Regions from separate parts of the Homo sapiens genome. Here region 1 is linked to region 2. A link means that fine-mapping ties the variant in region 2 to the expression of a gene that starts in the linked region. Tissue or cell type: whole blood. Region 2 holds a variant in brackets; the other region holds the start of a gene. All regions are shown on one strand. Distances are between the middles of the regions.

Region 1 (9,115 bases), 26 kb before region 2:
GGGAGGCTGAGGCAGAGAATTGCTTGATCCCGAGAGGCGGAGGTTGCAGTGAGCCGAGATCGCGCCACTGCACTCCAGCCTGGGCAACAGAGCGAGAGTCTGTCTCAAAAAAAAAAAAAAAAAAAAAAGTGCAGACTTCAAAGCCAGACTACCTGGGTTTTAATACTGCCTGCTACATCCCCCACTCTAACTGTTGACTTTAGACAAGTTAAATAACATTTCTGCGCATCTTTATTTCCCCATCTGTGCAACAGGAACAATATAATGGTACTGATCTCATAAGATTGTTGAGAGCAGCAAATGTGTTAACACGTGTAAAGTGACTATACCATTGCCTAACACACAGTAAATGTGGGACAGTACTACGATAGGACATTTCTGTTTTTGTTTTTTGTACTCTGTTGAGACGGGGTCTTGCTATGTTGCCCAGGCTAGTCTCAAACTCCTAGCCTCAAGCAATCCTCCCACCTCAGCCTCATAAAGTGCTAGGATTACAGGCATGGCCCACTGCTCCTGGCCATCGCTTTTTTTTTTTCTTCAACTAAGCTAGCCCACACAAAGTTTCAACTCTGATTGGCAGTAATGTTTCTCACTGTAAATTACTAAACTGGCAAACCCATTTCTATGGTAACTTTGTGTCTGGATCTCATTTGTAAATTAATGTTGATTCAAAATTCCCTTTATCCTGAATCAAGGACCAGATAAAACAAATTAAAATAAAATAAAATGCAAAGTTCCCTCTAAACACCTGTCATGTTTAACCATAAGCTTTCTGATGTGAAGGAGAAAGGAGGTTCCTGGGAATGTATCCACAATTAGTAACAGGATGACCCTTAAACCCCCAAGTGTGAATGAACCCACATGTATACATTACTGTGTACACACACACACACACACACACACACACACACACACCTGTCAATGTCCCTCCATTTGCAATATAGACAGCATTTAATACGCATGAAGAGATTTTTAAAAAGGGCATTCTTTAACGTATTTCAACTGGCAGCAGGTGATCAGAAAAAAATAAGATAAATAAAATATTGTTTAGCTATCAAAGAACAACTCTGCACTGTTAGATACTTAAGGTCCTGATTTGCACCTGAGTTTAGAAAGCTACCTCATACATATGCACTTAAAATGGAAATTTCTCATCAGATTCCACATCTAATGCAATGCAGAACCCAACTCTAGCTGTGCCCCATCTTTGCCCAGGGCAGAGCCAGTCTCAGCAACTTCCTTCACACTCAGCCCACCAAGATGTCAGTCCTCAGTGAAGCACTATTCCACATACGTACGTACATGATTATCAAATAAAGGGACTTCATACTCCAACTGCAGGAACGCAAAGAAACAAAACTAGATAAGTATGAAAGCTATAGAGTTTAGGAAAATCAAGGAAAAAAGTAATCACTGAAACTCATCTCTTGCAAAGAAAGTTACTTCAAAATTTGACGTAAATGGATTAAATTTCAGCATTTCGCTATACCGAAATTACACTATGGGAAGAAAAAACCCAAGAATACATCGGAGCCATTTATCTTCCATTTCCTGTATTTCCCTTAATTACCTACCCAAATGAATGCACGTAAGAGTTGTTAAAGTATTGAAATACGTCAGTCCTTTCTAATTACCTACCCAAATGAATGAGCGGAACAGTATGTTACAACTTTTAATTAAAATACGTCAGTTTCTTTTACAATTATCTTATTTCTGCATATCACAGAAAATATTCTAAGAACAGAGCAAAAATGAACAAGGACAATCCGCCCAGAAAACTGCTTTGAGGAATTTAGTAATCTCAGCCCTCTCAGGTTTAGCACGCCAACGTCTTTGGGAGAGCAAAGGCAAAGGAGATGATAAAATGACACTTCCAAATAGCAACAGCTGAGATCACTGCCGCATCCTAGATTCTTTCCACCAGGAGCGCGAGTATAGGGTTTTTTTCTAAACGCTCTTCCCAAGATCCCGAGGTCAATTTCAAACGCTGCTCCACGCTTAAGTCCCGAGGGAGGCTCGCTCGCCCACCCCACCCTGCAGGGATTGCACTTCCCGTTCGCTCTGGCCGGTCAGGAACCCTAACTTGACAGTGACAAACACTGAGAAAAGAGGAAGTGGCTAAAGATCATTTCATGACATTTTTTAAAGGGAGATCAATGGCCCTGTCTTTCCGGAAAACTTCCATGGGACGTTGCCATCACACCCTCTGAAAGTTTCAGCGAATGACAACGTAGCAAAAGTGAGGGCTACTCCCCTTTAAATATATATATATATATTAATCCTCGAAATCCTCTTGCTATCAAAATCGATCCCTCCTCCGTAACAGCGAACGCAAAACTAAGAGCGCCCATCCCGGTGGGGCCGATCTCGGAAGCCAGGCTCGGGGCCGGGTGCGCGCCGGGTCCTCCCTGCCAAGCTGCAGAGGAGGCGCCGGCACCGCGGCGGTCGCAGGACCTGGCAAGCGCCTACCTTACCTCCCTCACCTGGTTTGACTGGTTTGGGTGGCGGCTTCGACATCTCGCTTCCTGGAGCTGCAAATCCTAAAGACCCCGCCGAAAAGCCCACCGCTTGCCCGCCACCTGGCACTCCGGGCACCCCAGTTCTTTTTGTCTGGCTTACAACCGTGCGCCTCCTAGGACCGGCGCCCACCCTTGGCTGCGGGAAGAGCGGACGCAGGCAGAGCGGCTCCGCCGAGTGCTCCGCCCCGCCCCGCGGCCGCCGGAGCAGTCCAGAGCGCGCGCCGGGCCGACGAGGAAGTGGACCCCGCCTAGCCGAGCGCTAATTGGCTCCCGGGCTGGCAGCTTCGCCGCAGCAGGAGCGCGGGCGGCGCGCACGGCGGCGGAACCAGCCGGAGCCGAGCGAGGGCGAAGCGGGCGTGCGCCAGTGCAGTGCCGCGGGCCGCGCGCGCTCCCGATAGGGAAGGGCCGGAGCTGCGCAGGGGCGCGCGGAAGAGGCCAAGCTAGCCGGAGCCCCGCCCCGCCCCGCCCCGCCCCAACGGGGGCTGGAACCCGGCGCCGAGAGTAGAGAAAAGGGGCCTCTGGTGACCGCCCCTACCTGGCATCCCTCTAACCCAGGAGGAGCGTGGGGAAAGGGGCTGTGGGCCTCTCGGGGAGCGAGCTGCGGGTAGCGGCGCACTGGGTACAGGCGCGCGCTTGGCTGTCGCCTCTGCCGCTGTGTTTGGGAGGACTCGAACTGGCGCCAGGTGAGTGCGTACCTGCTCGCCCCTGCCGCGCCGCGCCGCCTTGCTGGGGCCTGGAGGTGTTTCCAGAGGGTTTCTGTGCTGGAGCCCGGGACTTGGTTGCGCCCTGAAAGCCTTGCCTGGACTCTTGCCACCCTCACAGAGCTGATAGGTGGCCTGCCGAGGAGGACGTGTACTCATGGTGGCGTGGTGCTCTAGCGCCCCGGAATAATCCTGAAAATGGGAACGCTGCCTCCAAGAGACCGCGCAGCCTGGAGAAGTCGCCAGGGACAGGATCAGGACTTGATCCTCGCGGATCGATATGGTCTCATTCCTCTAGCGTTGGGGTGATGACCTACTGCCCGCCTGCTGCCTGTTACTGTAAGGCCTGCTAAGAATTTTTTTTTTTTTTACTTTTTTTAATGACTGAAAAGAAATAAAAAGAAATATAATACTTTGTGACACGTGAAAATTACATGAAATTACGATTTCAGTGTCCGTAAAATTTTACTGGAACACGGTCACGCTCATTTGCATCTGTGTTTTCTGTGGCCGCTTTCGCATTACCCAGCAGGGTTGAGTAGCAGCTGGCAAAGCCCAAAGCATTTCCTGTCTGGCACTTTACAGAAAAAGTTTTCCTACCCCTGATCTATCGGATTGAATCTTCGGTGGGAGGAAAGAACTGGAGCACACAAGGAAGCCAATGGCATAAGTTCAAAATAACAGTCAATATTGTAAATTAATTGTATATTTGGGGAAAGAAAAAACTGTTTACCTAAGAACCTACATAAATGAAACCAATGGGGGAGGGGCATGAATTGCGTTTTCAAAAACCCCAGCCCTTCACGTCTGTAATCCCAGCACTTTGGGAGGGCAAGGCGGGTGGATCACGAGGTCAAGAGATCAAGACCATCTTGGCCAACCTGGTGAAACCCGATCTCTACTAAAACTGCAAAAAATTAGCCGGGCGTGGTGGCAGACGCCTGTAGTCCCAGCTACTCGGGAGGCTGGGGCAGGAGAATCACTTGAACCCAGAAGGCGGAGGTTGCAGTAAGCCGAGATTGCGCCACTGCACTCCAGCCTGGCAACAGAGCGAGACTCTGTCTTAAAAAAAAAAAAAAAACCCAGCCTTGAGGGATTTGTTTACCAAAAGGGAGCAAAGTTTAAACAATAGTAGGAAAAGACTGCCCTATCTCCTGGAAGAAGAGAATCAAAATAGCTGTTGGATAGAATACAGAGTAAGAAGTCCTGGAAACATTTTTCTCTTTTTAAAATATCAGACTGTCCTGTAGATACATTTGAAGAGCACATTTAGCTTTGTCAGCTGTCTTTCAGATCATTTGCGTTAGAGAGCTGCGTTAGAGAGTTCGTACAATCTGCTGATTCTGCACATGCCACTTCTGACCATTCTGCAGTTTAGAATCCAAAAGGCAAGTGTTTAGTAGTGAAATGAATTAAGCATAATAAACACACCTGAATTATTTTAAAAAACCCAACATTTTACTTAGGGTTAAAAAAAAGTGTAAAAAATAAAATTAGTCATTTCAGGTTTGCTCTTGGCTATCCTAGTTTGTTCTCCTGCTATGCAAAAGCTCTCCGCTGTTGAGGAAAGCCTTGCACGCACTGGGAAAATAAACTACACAGATATTCCATGAGATTGAAGGTGGTGTGGATTCTAGTGATAGACGTGCCCTGAAATGATGACTCTTTGGACACATCACATGATTTACAGTTTGTACGAAGCTTGCATTTGCTTCATGAAGCCTGGCAACTCAATTGCGAGCTTTTTAAATTTGATTTTTTGTTTTGTTTTTGGTTTTATGGGAGGCAGTTTTTGGGTTGTTTTTTGCCTGTTTGTTTTGGTTTTTTTCAAGATAGGGTCTCGCTGTGTCACCAAGGCTGCAATGCAGTGGCACAGTCATGGCTCACTGCAGCCTTGGTGATTTTTTTTATAGGGGCAACAGGCAATGAAATAGTAGAATGTGATGTGGAGGTGGACAGTGCCAGGCCTGAACTTGGAGCTCCCCTAAAGCTGCCCTGTGCATCCACACTGTTTTTGAAATAAATGCCTTCAGGGATTGCTAGGCCCACCCCCCACCCCGCCCTAGTCACTTAGCCCAGTTGCCTCTCTTGTCTCTGCATGTTCCAGTTACCCACCCTTCCCATCACATTGTCACTTGCTCATAGCTGATAGGGTATGCCCAGCATTTACCCAAACACTGGCTTGGACAGGCCCAGACTGCTAACTAATGTAGAACTGGGAGTTCCTGTTTTGGTTAAAAAAAAAAAAAAAAAAAAAAAAAAACTTACATTTGACTGTATCTGAGAGATTTTATAAGTAGGTTTTTTATGCCATCTTACTCCTGGTTCCTGAATGCAAGTAACCCCCTCAAGCCTATTTCCCATGCCACAACCATGCTCACTTGTTATTTACATGCCATGTAATTGATGCAATGGTCACACGTGTAACCACAGATGTGGCAGTTTAGGACGGGGACCAGTAGTCCTTTCCATTCTGTGTGCACAGCAAATAGATGCCCCATCAATAATACATCAGTAAGAATGACATCAATTATACATCAGAGCCTGACAATTAAGCTAGCACATACCTAACACCCTTTCTTTGCTGTTAGTAATAAAGTGCTTTTTAGCAGCTTGGAGTGATAGAAAGAAGTCAGCTCAATTGGTTTAGTTTAATATCTGGCTTTTCCACTTACTGTCTGTGTGACCTTAGGCAAATTGCTCTATTGTCTGAGCCAGTTTCCACTTATGCAAAATGAAGGGGTAGACCAAGTAATCGCTAAAGCTATACTTCTCCAAGTTTGAGAATTTATGCTTCAGCGAGCTATCCAAAAATAATGGGGGCAAGGAATGACAAGGTTTTATGAATTTTTATTTTATTTGGTAAAGTGAGGATATCACTCTACTAACATCTTCTGACAACATAGTTTTGTAAGAGAAAGAACATTTATCACCACAAAAGTGAGATAAAGAGCAGCCTCTCCCTTCCCAAAAAAAGGCTAATTGGCAGCATTGAACCGACATACCAAAAAAATAAGAATAGGGTAAAATAAAATTCAAAAGCAGAAAAATTACAACATAAAAATGTATTTTACAATATTCATTGTATGCAGTCATTCCCTCGATACATCTTGTAAATTTGGATGGAGATGTGTATTCAACAACATAACTCTGGATGAAACTTAAATATGCAACTTGTCTGCTATTTTATTTTATTTTTTAAGACAGGGCCTCACTCTGCCACCCAGGCTGGAGTGCAGCGGCTCAATCTCCACTCACTGCTACCCCCACCTTGTAGGCTCAAGCAATCCTCCCACCTCAGCCTCCGAAGTAGCTGGGACTACAGGAGCATGCCACCATGCCTGGATAATCTTTTGTATTTTTGGTAGAGGTAGCGTTTTGCCATGTTGCCCAGGCTGGTCTCAACCTCCTGAGCTCAAGCAATCCGCCTGCCTTGGCCTCCCAAAGTGCTGGGATTATAGGCATGAGCCACAGTGCCCTGCTGCTATTTTATCACAGTCATTATTGATTCTTGTCTCACATAGACTTGTTAATGGAAGTGGACCCCAGTCTTAAGCAATTGTACTCAATGTGGGATATTTAGATAAGCCAAGAAGTCAGACAACAATAGCCCTCTTCCCACCAGGCTTTTTTCTGCATAACCCCTCCCCAGGGAGAGTGTGGACACAGATCATAGAAACTGGAGCATTGCTGGGAGCCTCCAGCTTGGCAGGCAGCCGCTTGCCCCTGGCTACACGGCCTAGGTCCCTGGCAACCCCCCTGAGCAGATAGGAAGGAAGAAGAGTGGCCTTCAGGGATGACCTTCAGGAGCCACTATTCTAAGATTCCCTCCAGCTGTGCTTCACCTTTTCACTTAGTGAGAAAAATGGCCCATTGTAATAACCAAGGACTACTTTAGTGAACGTTAGGGAGGCATGTATGAAACTGCCCTCCATCCCCTAAACCAAAAATCCACAAAACAGTGGCCGGTGGCTTAACTTGGCCCTCTGCCTGAACATTTGCAGTTTCATGTAGAAAGCACAACAGAAATCCAATTAAGAGAAATGATAGCCCAATAAAAGGGAATTTCATTCTTGTCATTAGTAGACCTGTTAAAAAAATTATGATTATATGTTGAATTTCATCAAAAAAAATTGTGAAAATGTTTTTTCTCTTGTTATATAAGTCCATACATAACAACCTAGATTTTGCCTCTTGGCCCACATAGTGTCAAATATTTACTGTCTGGCCTGTTTCCAAAAAAAATGTACCTAGCCAGGCCCAAGACCTAGGCTTTTGGGTGAAGAAATAGTGTCTTTAAACGGCATTAGCTTCATTTTGCCTCTGGCCAGCAGTAACTTTCTTCTTGTCTCATAAGGGCAGTATCTTTAAACGGCATTAGCTTCTTTTTGCCTCTGGTCAGCAGTGACTTTTTCCTTGTCTCATGAGGGGAGAAAGAGGCCAGCCCACAGGGGTCCCTCCCTCACTGATAATGAGTCATACCCAGGCGACTGAATCGTGAAGGTGGAAGGCAACCTGGCTAAGGAGAGGATGAAACTTCATATACCACGCTGTGGCCTAGCAGTTCTTCCACGCCCAGAAAACAGACGTTCAAGGGGGAGTGCTCCGGCAGGTCACCTGACGTTGAACTGTTTGACAGTCCTGAGCACACCCCAGTGGTTGGCACTCAGTGGTAGCAGGGGAAGCCAGTGCGGCGGGAATGTGGATAATGCGGGGCTGGGCTGAAAGGTCACTGTCATCCTCCCCTCTCAGCTGGTGCTCCTAATTTAGGATTCTTTTATCTCCCTAGACATCTAAATGAAATGCATTTGATTTGTTTGTTTGTTTTTTTACTTTTAGGAAATATTAGGAAGCTGTGATTTTCAAAGCTAATTATGAAAACATTTATCATTGGAATCAGTGGGTGAGTAATTTTGCTACAAACAGCTCTTTAAGATACTGAGGATGTCCAAATGGTGTTTCTGTGTGGATGGAGTGGGGGACGGAGAAGCAGTGAGGATTCCAGAGTCCTGGGGAAGAGCAGACCACTGTGGAATATCAGTGGAGCACTGGCTTCATAAATGCCAACAAGAGATGGAAGAGTTTTCTATAAACAGAGAAACAGAAGAGTCAGTCAACCACATTTACCCACTTTCCCATTTATTTTGTGGAGCTAACACCAGAGACAAGGTCTGATTGGGCACTGCTTTCATTCAGGATGATTTATCATTCCCCATATCATTCTCCTTCATCACGATGGAGGAGAAAACTTAGTTTCTTTCCAGCTGTGCCCAGCTTCAGACATTTGGTATACAGAACACCTTCACCTCCATTCCTTTCCCCCATGTTTTGGGTGGCCTTATGTCCCATGTTGCCCAAGCTAATCCTTGTGGCCCTGGATGCACCTCTCTTTCTCTCAAACATGTTCTAAATTATATGGTCATCCTACCTGTGGTGCCATAGGCAGGCATGCAAATAAAACATCAACATCAACTGAAAATGACATTATTTGTTTTGCTACCATATTATGTTCACCTTTACTCTAAGTATATTCACATTGTTTGTGACCCAATTAATAAAATATCTGAGACTACTTTGTTTGTAATTTTGGGGAAATCATTGTGTTATGGTATTACATTACCATAGTAAGTCATCAATCAGAAGTAAAATTGAGTGAACTAAATGTTAGAACTCTGCTTTGCCTCCCATCTAACCAGAAGAAAAGTTCAGTTTTTCTCTGCAGTACTTCTCTTGTGTTTCTCTTCCTTCTCACCCTCACTGCCACCATCCTGATACAGGCTGTCATTCCCTAGTCCCCATCTTTCCCTTCTAATCTTTCCTACACACCTCTATCAGTTTAATCTTCATACAGAACATTTTGATTATCTGCCTGATGAATGATATTCAGTGGTTCCG
Region 2 (11,077 bases):
TAGGGGTAAAACCATGTACCCTTTGTTACATCTCTTAATGCTATTTATGTGATTTACTTTAAAACTTTTAGTAGATGGCTGTACCAAATGGGACTGGAAGTATCCTTTGGGCACAGTATAATTAAAATGCTGATGATTTTTTTTAGTATGTCCAGAGCTCCCCTTTTCTTTTATTCCCTTAAAGACTTTCTGTAAAATTTCTACTTTCCAAATACCTCAAAGATAAACAAAAGATTTTAAAAAGTATTATGAAGTGTTTGTTTAAGGTTTTCATATTGGACGGCACTGTTTGCAAGTGACAGGGATCTGCCTAAATATGGCTACAGCAGAAAGACAGTACAGGGGTAATGGTGGCTTCAGGCTCAGCTGGATTAACTCATTTATGCCTAGTGTTCCATTGTTGGAACTCTAAGCTTGTAGGAGTTATTTATATCCTACTGCTGAAGGTCATCACCAAGGTCTCGTTTTTCACAAAAATAATTTGCAACCTCCAACATTAATGGGTTAAGGAACTCAAATAAGGTCCTCAGGACTCTGCTTCTATTCTACTTTCTATTTAGGGTTTATTTTGAAGTCAGGCTCTCCACTGACCTGATGTCTGTTGACAACAACATCCTCCTAGGTCCATCAGTCCCAGGGTAAAAAGATATCTTTTTCAAGATTTGACAACGAGTTGATAAATGTTGGAGCTGGATATTGAGTACAAGGAGGTTCATATTTATTCTCACTTCTTTTGCATAAATTTGAAATTCTTTATTTTAAATAGTTTTCTAAAAAGCAATGTTCTGTTGTAGCCCAGATGATTGGTCCTGCTGGATCACATGACTTGCCAAACCAATCACTATGGCCAGGGAGATGGCATACTCTGATTGGCCAGGCCTACATCACATAACCCATCTTGTAATTGAATACCCCACCTAACACCTTCTGATTTTAAAAATTTCTCTGGCCAGTTGCAATGGCTCACGTTTATAATCCCAGCACTTTGGGAGGCTAAATTGGGAGGATTGCTTGGGGCCAGGAGTTCAAGACCAGCCTGAGCAACATAGTGAGAGGGACTCCATTTCTACAAAAATTAAAATTTTTTAAAAATTAGCTACCAAGCACAGTGGCTCACATCTGTAATCCCAGCACTTTGGGAGGCCGAGGCAGACAGATCATGATGGTCAGGAGATCCAGACCATCCTGGCCAACATGGTGAAACCCCGTCTCTACTAAAATACAAAAAATTAGCCAGGTGTGGTGGTGCGCGCCTGCAGTCCCAGCTACCCGGGAGGCTGAGGCAGGGGAATCTCTTGAACTCCGGGGGCAGACATTGCAGTGAGCTAAGATTGCACGCCACTGCACTCCAGTCTGGTGACAGAGTGAGACTCTGTCTCAAAAAAATAAAAATAAAAAATTAGCTGGGCATAGTGGCACGTGCCTATAATCTCAGCTACTCAGGGTATTGAGGTGGGAGGATGGCTTTAGCCCAGGAAGTCAAGGCTGCAGTGAGCCATGAATGTGCCATTGCACTCCACCCTGGGAGACAGACAGCCCTATTTCTAAAAATTAAAAAATCAAAAATTTCCCAAAGAGAAAGCAGGGCAGGAGGTAGAAACCAGAAGAAGAAAGTCGAAAAAACATGCTTAAGGGACAAAACTGTAGATGTAGCTGTTGTTATATTTGAACTATTTGAATTAAAAGAACTTCCATGGCTAACACCAGCAAAATGCAATCATCAGCTGGCTCAGAGAAGACAGTATGACTCACTCCAGCAGTGAAGAATATTATATGTTTTTTTTGGTGAGAAGCAATTGCCCTAGTCCAAATGTTGTCCTTCCTCAGTAAGAATTAGATTTCCTACCTACATCCTCAATAAATTCCTCTTTGACTAGGAGACTGAGCCCAACTAGGCAGCTCATTGATCCTAAACATTGTTGATTTCAGGATCAGCCCATCATATAGGCATGAACCCATTTGAAGGAATTTCAGGACCATTTTAAATTTTCTTCTTGCAAGTAGAATTTAGAATCCTTGCCAGATATGCCCGCCCACTCCTGCCATCTGTTACTTTGATGAAAGTCAGGCCTTCCATAATGAATCTCAGAGCACCAACATGAGTGGATATAGAGGGTGTGGGGTGAAGGGAGGGGCTCAGCCTTCATAAATGATAGCACATGAGCCAGAGCCACTTCTCTGAGAGTTATTGGCTCCCCTTTCTGTCCCTAATGAGGCACTTCCAGGAGTGTTTCAGCTGTTGGACACCTATAGCTCTTTGTCTTCTCAGCAATGGCCAGTGCTTGGGTCCAGCTTTCCTTTATGACTAAGTGATACACTGGAGTTTGGCCTTATGATCTACCTACTGATAAAGATGAAAGTAGCCTTTGTCATGTAGCTCAGGTAAATTGCAACCAGCTCCATTCCAAATTCAGTCTTCACCATCTGTTCCAAAGCCCAAGAACAGCTGACATGTTTTGACAGGTGCTGCTAGCTCACAAGAAAGTGCATTTCCCTGTGTTGTGACGCCCCTCCTTCCTTCCCTACATCCTAGAGGCAGGCAGGAAAGTATTTAGCTATGCCATTTGAGGCTTCTAGATATTAGTTAAAGTTTAAAAAAAAAACTTAAAAGAGGGATAAAAACAGAAATACATCAGCTTTTCTTACCTCCAACATTTATGCTGGTTTTTCTCAGTTACATAAATAAGTTACTGTTTTATTTCTAGTAACCTATCACCTTTCCTATTTCTTCCATCCACAGTATCCTGGCAAAGCTTTCCTGAAGGTACCCTCAGCATAGCCTGGTTTAACCCTGAGTATGACACACACTGAGCTAGCTGGGGAGGCCTTTCAGTGTTTCTAGTGACTAATCTTCAGGGTTTTTTTTCTCACATCTCATAAACTTGTTTAGCTAATTTTTCAGTCTTAAGTACATAAAATCATAATTATGATAAGGTAATAATAATGAAGGGGAAACAAGAAAGACTGAATTTAATTGTTAATGAAACAATAAATTATCCAACAGAGTAAGAGAATGGAGTTACACATTTAATTTAATCCTTATTTAAATCCAAAGTATGAGGCAAAATTTAATTATTTCCTTATTCTTACTAAAACAAAGTAGTCTAGCCACCAGGAACATTCAAACTCCCTTTAAAAACATTTATTTTCACCTCATTATAAAAACATTATTTTTAAGGTTTTTTATTTTTTGTTTTATTTATTTTTATTTTTTATTTTTCTCATATGGAGTCTTTTTTTCTTTCTTTTTTTTTTTTTTTGAGATGGAGTCTCGCTCTGTCGCCCAGGCTGGAGTGCAGTGGCACAATTTCGGCTCACTGCAAGCTCCGCCTCCTGGGTTCACACCATTCTCCTGCCTCAGCCTCCCGAGTAACTGAGACCACAGGTGCCAGCCATCACACCTGGCTAATTTTTTATATTTTTTTAGTAGAGACGGGGTTTCACCATGTTAGCCAGGGTGATCTCAATCTCCTGACCTCCGCCCGCCTCGGCCTCCCAAAATGCTGGGATTACAGGTGTGAACCACTGTGCCCAGCCAATATGGAGTTGTTCTGTCGCCCAGGATGGAGTGCAGTGGCACGATCTCAGCTCACTGCAACCTCCACCTTCTGGGTTCAGGTGATCTCCTACCTCAGCCTCCCAAGTAGCTGGGATTACAGGTACGCACTACCACGCCCTGCTAATTTTTGTATTTTTAGTTAAGACGGGGTTTTGCTATGTTGATCAGGCTGGTCTCAAACTCCTGACCTCAGGTAATCCGTCTGCCTTGGCCTCCCATAGTGCTGGGATTACAGGCATCAGCCACCATGCTCAGCCTTTTTAAATGTTTAATAGAAAGCAAAAGGGAGGAAGTAATTACCTGTGTTCCCTCCAATCATTAGTGTTAACATTTTAATGAGTACACATCCAGTCTTTTTGCTGTTCACATCAATCTGTCTTTTACAAGACTGCAAGGACAGTGTAGTTAATCAGCCATGCTTATCTCTGTTTTTAAATTAGTATTTAATATTTATGCAGCTTTATAGATTTCATTATATAATGAAACTAAGTAGCTCTTCCAGTTAAAAAAAAAATCAAGGCTGAGTTCTGTTTTGTACACTGAAGAGAAATGTAAGACTTGACATTGACCCTTTAGTACAGAAGAAACATGTCACATGTCTAGTTCCAAATCAAAAGAATAAGAAGTTGCAAAATAAAATTTAATTATCAGATGTTTGTATTTTTCTCATTAAATATAAAATATAATCTCATTATAAAATTATAGTATAATTATCTGGTACAGTAGTCCAAATTAACATAAGATCACTTAACCATTTCCCAATTGTTGGATATTTACTGTTGTTACAAGTGTTTCACATGGATATATCACATGCCATAAAAAATATCTACACCTACTCTTTGTTGGTTGTCTTCTTTTTGAATTATATCCCTGGAGTAAATTCCCAGAAGTGTCACTTATGTAGTCAAAGGATGTAATCATTTTTACATTTTACATATTTCAAAAATGAAATACTACCCAAAAAATGTGTGCTTTGCAACATCAGCTGTGTAATAAGAATGTGGTAGGTTTATCATTGAATTTCTATGCCAAATCAAGTATTCCACTGGGCTTCCTTCGTTTAAGAAAAGGGATTAAAGTAACAATACTTTCCCCACATCAAGGATAACACTCCAAAACAAGGATTATACTGCAGACAACTACCCTTTGTGGTTTTATTCTAGTCTTCAAACTATATCATTCTCTGAAGTCAAGGATTACTATACGAACTACAAGTGATATTGGATATCTATCTGATATTTTAAGGTATGCTTCAAATTTAATGCAGGGATTAAAAGAATGGGACTTGGACTCAATTTAGTTCTTTACAGGAAACCAGCATTTTTGGCTCCAGAATCCCTCTAATTTAAACATCCTTAGATTTACTGTTGTTGATGTAAAGATTTAATAAAATGAGAATTGGAATTCTCCATTAATTTCTTTTTATGTTTATTCCCAAGGTTTGCAAGTGACAGCATAAAGACGGAACACAACAAATCCTTCCTGAAGTGAATTAGGAAACTCCAAGGAGTAATTTAAGAACCTTCACCAAGATACAATGTATACTGTGGTACAATGACAGCCATTGTTTCATATGTTTGATTTTTATTGCACATGGTTTTCCCAACATGTGGAACAATAAATATCCATGCCAATGGACAGGAC[T/C]GTACCTTAGCAAGTTGCTCCCTCTCCAGGGAGCGCATAGATACAGCAGAGCTCACAGTGAGTCAGAAAGTCTCCACTTTCTGAACATAGCTCTATAACAATGATTGTCAAACTTTTCTAACTGGAGCTCAGAGTAAGAAATAAAGATTACATCACAATCCAATATCTGTGGAATTCATTGTGTATGTTTATGTATTTGTGTGTAGGTGTGTATGTGTGTGTGTGATACATACATACATCAAGTATCACAAGACATTGACCTTATATATTATGCACTGTGATGTTTTTCCGTCTTTAATTATAAAAAACATATTGATCACAACCACAATTTGGAAAATGTTGCTCCATACCATCCCATACCAACACTCACCACCTGCAAATAATAGCATTACTAGGAGCTGCAGTCACAATGAATAAATCAACAATTCGCTACAAGATCTAGGATTATTTGTGTATTTTGTTGAGTGTGTGTGTGTGTGTGTGTGTGTGTGTGTGTGTGTGTTGGCGTGTATCTAATACCATTGTATCTCATTGTTGAGACTTTGTTACAAATAGGGTTTCTGGTTTCTTTCTCCCCCCTCGTGGTTCATTTTGTTTTTGTCAAACCAGTGGTCTAAAATCACAGAAATAAGCAATTACTTCAATCATGTGGAATCCAGGGGACCTATCTTTGGAAAGCACAGAAGGAGATCTGAATTGTGTGATCTCTTGAGGCTGCTTTCAATGCTGGAATTTAAATTATGTACTGAACAATCTTTTGCTTATTAATAAAAAGATTACACACAACCATCTCAATCTTTTTTTTATATATACTTTAAGTTCTAGGGTACATGTGTACCATGTGCAGGTTTGATACATAGTTATGCATGTGCCATGTTGGTTTGCTGCACCCATCAACTCATCATTTGCATTAGGTATTTCTCCTAATGCTATCCCTCCCCCAGCCCCCCACCCCCGACAGACCCTGGTGTGTGATGTTCCCAGCCCTGTATCCAAGTGATCTCATTGTTCAATTCCCACCTATGAGTGAGAACATTCAATGTTTGGTTTTCTATCTTTGTGATAGTTTGCTGAGAATGATGGCTTCCAGCTTCATCCATGTCCCTGTAAACGACATGAACTCATCCTTTTTTATGGCTGCATAGTATTCCATTGTGTATATGTGCCACATTTTCTTAATCCAGTCTATCATTGATGGACATTTGGGTTGGTTCCAAGTCTTTACTATTGTGAATAGTGCCGCAATAAGCATAAATGTGCATGTGTCTTTATAGTAGCATGATTTATAATCCTTTGGGTATATACCCAGTAATGGGATCACTGGGTCAAATGGTATTTCTAGTTCTAGATCCTTGAGGAATCACCACACTGTCTTCCACAATGGTTGAACTAGTTTACAGTCCCACCAACAGTGTAAAAGTGTTCCTATTTCTCCATATCCTATCCAGCATCTATTGTTTCCTGACTTTTTAATGATCACCATTCTAACTGGTGTGAGATGGTATCTCATTGTGGTTTTGATTTGCATTTCTCTGATGACCAGTGATAATGAGCATTTTTTCATGTGTCTGTTGGCTACATAGAAGTCTTCTTTTGAGAAGTGTCTGTTCATATCCTTTGCCCACTTTTTGATGGGGTTGTTTGTTTTTCTCTTGTAAATTTGTTTGAGTTCTTTGTAGATTCTGGATATTAGCCCTTTGTCAGATGAGTAGATCGCAAAAATTTTCTCCCATTCTGTAGGTTGCCTGTTCACTCTGATGGTAGTTTCTTTTGCCATGCAGAAGCTCTTTAGTTTAATTAGATCCCATTTGTCTATTTTGGCTTTTGTTGCCATTGCTTTTGATGTTTTAGTCATGAAGTCCTTGCCCATGCTTATGTCCTGAATGGTATTGCCTAGGTTTTCTTCTAGGATTTTTGTGGTTTTAGGTCTAACATTTAAGTCTTTAATCCATCTTGAATTAATTTTTGTATAAGGTGTAAGGAAGAGGTCTAGTTTCAGCATTCTACATATGGCTAGCCACTTTTCCTGGCACCATTTATAAATGGGGAATCCTTTCCCCATTGCTTGTTTTTGTCAGGTTTGTCAAAGATCAGATGGTTGTAGATGTGTGGTGTTATTTCTGAGGCCTCTGTTTTGTTCCATTGGTCTATATATCTGTTTTGGTACCAGTACCATGCTGTTTTGGTTACTGTAGCTTTGTAGAATAGTTTGAAGTCAGGTGGCGTGCTGCCTCCAGCTTTTTTCCTTTTGCTTAGGATTGTCTTGGCGATGCGGGCTCTTTTTTGGTTCCATATGAACTTTAAAGTAGTTTTTTCCAATTCTGTGAAGAAAGTCATTGGTAGCTTAATGGGGATAGCATTGAATCTATAAATTATCTTGGGCAGTATGGCCATTTTCACTATATTGATTCTTCCTATCAATGAGCATGGAATGTTCTTCCATTTGTTTGTGTCCTCTTTTATTTTGTTAAGCAGTGGTTTGTAGTTCTCCTTGAAGAGGTCCTTCACATCCCTTGTAAGTTGGATTCCTAGGTATTTTATTCTCTTTGAAGCAAGTGTGAATGGGAGTTCACACATGATTTGGCTCTCTGTTTGTCATTGGTGTATAGGAATGCTTGTGATTTTTGCACATTGATTTTATATCCTGAGACTTTGCTGAAGTTTCTTAACAGCTTAAGGAGATTTTGGGCTGAGACAATGGGGTTTTCTAAGTATACAGTCATGTCATCTGCAAACAGGGACAATTTGACTTCCTCGTTTTCTAATCGAATATCCTTTATTTCTTTCTCTTGCCTGATTGCCCTGGCCAGAACTTCCAACACTATGTTGAATAGGAGTGGTGAGAGAGGGCATCCTTGTCTTGTGCAGGTATTCAAAGGGAATGCTTCCAGTTTTTGCCCATTCAGTATGATATTGGCTGTGGGTTTGTCATAAATAGCTCTTATTATGTTGAGATACATTCCATCAATACCTAGTTTATTGAGAGTTTTTAGCATGAAGGGCTGTTGAATTTTGTCGAAGGCCTTTTCTGCATCTATTGAGATAATCATGTGGTTTTTGTCATTGGTTGTGTTTATGTGATGGATTACGTTCATTGATTTGCATATGTTGAACCAGCCTTGCATCCCAGGGATGTAGCCAACTTTGAGACAGTCTCACTCTGTTGCCAGGCTGGAGTGCAGTGGTGCGATCTCGGTCACCGCAGTCTCGGCCTCCCGGGTTCAAGCGATTCTCCCACCTCAGCCTCCTGAGTAGCTGGAACTACAGGCGCATGCTACCATGCCCAGTTAGTCTTTGCATTTTTGGTAGAGACAGGGTTTCAGGATAGTCTTGATCTCCTGACCTAGTGATCCGCCAGCCTTGGCCTCCCAAAGTGCTGGAATTAGAGGCGTGAGCCACCATGCCCAGCCAACTTTCTCAATCTTTAAAATATATTGTTACATTAACCATTCTCTACAGACTCAGTCAACTCTCATTATTTCTTTATTTCTAACTAGCTTGCACTCACTTGGTGATGACCAGACAGTTCTTTGGATCCCACACACTACAAAAAATACAAACAAAAACAAAACCCAGGCTCAAATTATAGTTCATCCACTCAGTAGCTATGAGTTCAATCAAGCTATTTAAAGTTTTGGTTTTCTCTTTTTAAGATAAGGGATATCAACAGTATTTAGAATGGGTGTAGGGTAGAATAAGGATAAAGTTCAAATATTTTAATGTGGCATCCAAGGCTTTCTCTGATCTGGCTTCTGTGTACCTCTCTATCCTCATTTCCCATCAGAATTGGGTCATATAGTCACTTCTCCCTGCAAGGGAGGCTGGGAAGATGTCATGATAGTTTCAGACCAATTGTGACTCTGCCTTGGGATGTTGCCACTGATCAACATCAAGGATCTTTTAGTGAGGAAATAGGAAAGCCACTGAAGATGCCTACCACGGCCTTTTTCTGCATAACTTCCCTGGCCATGATTTTATCAAGTTTGGGTTGCTGTAATTTGTGTTATTAATACATTAGGAGAATTTTGTTTTATTTTATTAGGATAAAAATAGAGTATAGATATGATTATTAAACTTCACTTCTAAGAATTTCTGAGATGCCCTCTTCTCCCCCTTCCCACTGCAGAGGCACGGCCCTGCTAATTGAGAATCATCAGTTTTCTCCCCATTTCAGCATATGAAGGTCAGAGAAAATATATCTTGCGAGAAAAAAATGCATCAAAAAGGAAAACATTCCAGTAATTTTGGGAAGAAATAAGTATATTTTTGCTCACTAGTATCAGTGAGAAATAAATAGGAATTTGAAATAAGAATACCAGTGCTTCATTTCTGTATGCACTGATTCACATTACAGTTACTCTTTATTACAGGAGTTAATGGTGGTACTGTTATCTATTTAGAAAGATACAATACATATTTGACAAGGAGCACATGTGCTGAAGTCTTCACTTTCTGTGCATAAATAACCCCAGTCCCTTTAAGATGAGTTTGCTGTAGGAAGGCTTCATTGTGTTTAGTATTAAATTAAACATGAGTTCGATTTCAAAGGTTTGAAAGATGCACAGACCATTACACTAAAGGATGAGATTCAAGCCAAATGGTTTATCTTTTAAGTATATGCTTGTGATATATGACAGTCACAAAATGTTGAGGTATTAGTCCAACACTATATCTTAGTATTGAAATTGAAACTAAAGCTGTCCAACACCATGCAACTACCTGGTGACAGGACAAGTCCACAATCCTGACATCATACAAGCATGCACACATACATTTTTCATTTTAGACAAAGTGCCGAGACCAGCTCGGTCAGGGAGACCCTAACCCAGCGGTGCTAGAGGAATTAAAGACACACATATAGAAATATAGAGGTGTGCAGTGGGAAATCAGAGGTCTCACAGCCTTCAGAGCTGAGAGCCACGAACAGGAATTTACCCACGTATTTATTAACAGCAAGCCAGTCATCAGCATTGTTCATATAGATATTAAATTAACTAAAAGTATCCCTTATGGGAAACAAAGGGATGGGCCGAATTAAAGGAATAGGTTGGGCTAGTTAACTGCAGCAGGAGCATGTCCTTAAGGCACAGATCGCTCATGCTATTGTTTGTGGCTTAAGAATGCCTTTAAGCGGTTTTCTGCCCTGGGTGGGCCAGGTGTTCCTTGTCCTCATTCCAGTAAACCCACAACCTTCCAGTGTGCGCTTTATGGCCATCGTGAACATGTCACGGTGCTGCAGAGATTTTGTTTATGGCCAGTTTTGGGGCCAGTTTATGGCCAGATTTCAGGGGACTTGTTCCCAACACAAAGAATGGCAGAAAAATAGCCTGCTAGAATACATCATCTCTCTTTCCCTATTTTAAGGGAGCAAATCAAGGAGCCTGGAAAGGCAAGAGCTCTGTCAGGGCAAAATGAAGCTTTCTGTTCCACACTTTTGGAGCCTAGTCAAGGATGCAAGCCATTTCATCAGGTTATCCATGGGGTAAGAAACAGTGGTGAGGTCCTGGAGCTCCATGCCACCATCTGGCTGTGTTGACCTGTGGTTTGTGGCTCTAGCTGTTCTTTCAATATGCCATCAATGGTGGGGAGTTCAGAAAAAGGCTGGCTGCAGTGGCTCTTGCCTGTAATCCCAGCACTTGGGAGGCTGAGGTAGGTGGATCACCTGAGGTCAGGAGTTCAAGACCAGCCTGCCCAATATGGTGAAACTCCATCTCTACTAAATATACAAAAATTAGCCAGGCTTGACAGCATGTACCTGTAGTCCCAGCTACTCAGGAGGCTGAGACAGGAGAATCTCAGAACCTGGGAGGCAGAGGTTGCAGTGAGCAGAGATCGTGCCACTGCACTCCAGCCTGGGCAACAGAGTGAGATACC

What was found. PIP is the estimated chance that this variant, and not a neighbour inherited with it, causes the effect.
Region 1: NMRK1 starts here. The variant in region 2 is fine-mapped to the expression of NMRK1 in whole blood (INTERVAL, PIP above 0.99).

Annotation. Positions count from the first base shown.
Region 1 is chr9:75,082,095-75,091,209 of GRCh38, reverse strand. It overlaps NMRK1 (nicotinamide riboside kinase 1), which reads left to right and starts at 3,055. Exons shown (of 9, transcript NM_017881.3): 1 at 3,055-3,202; 2 at 8,060-8,123. The coding sequence starts at 8,095. OSTF1 (osteoclast stimulating factor 1) reads right to left here and starts at 2,696. Exons shown (of 10, transcript NM_012383.5): 1 at 2,484-2,696. The coding sequence starts at 2,517. RefSeq lists silencers at 2,306-2,395, 2,586-3,185.
Region 2 is chr9:75,055,489-75,066,565 of GRCh38, reverse strand. NMRK1 (nicotinamide riboside kinase 1) reads left to right here. Exons shown (of 9, transcript NM_017881.3): 9 at 4,999-5,989. The coding sequence ends at 5,018. Among named protein-coding and RNA genes, the nearest start is that of NMRK1, 27 kb to the left of the region's middle. The variant T/C (reference allele first, on the strand shown) is at 5,204.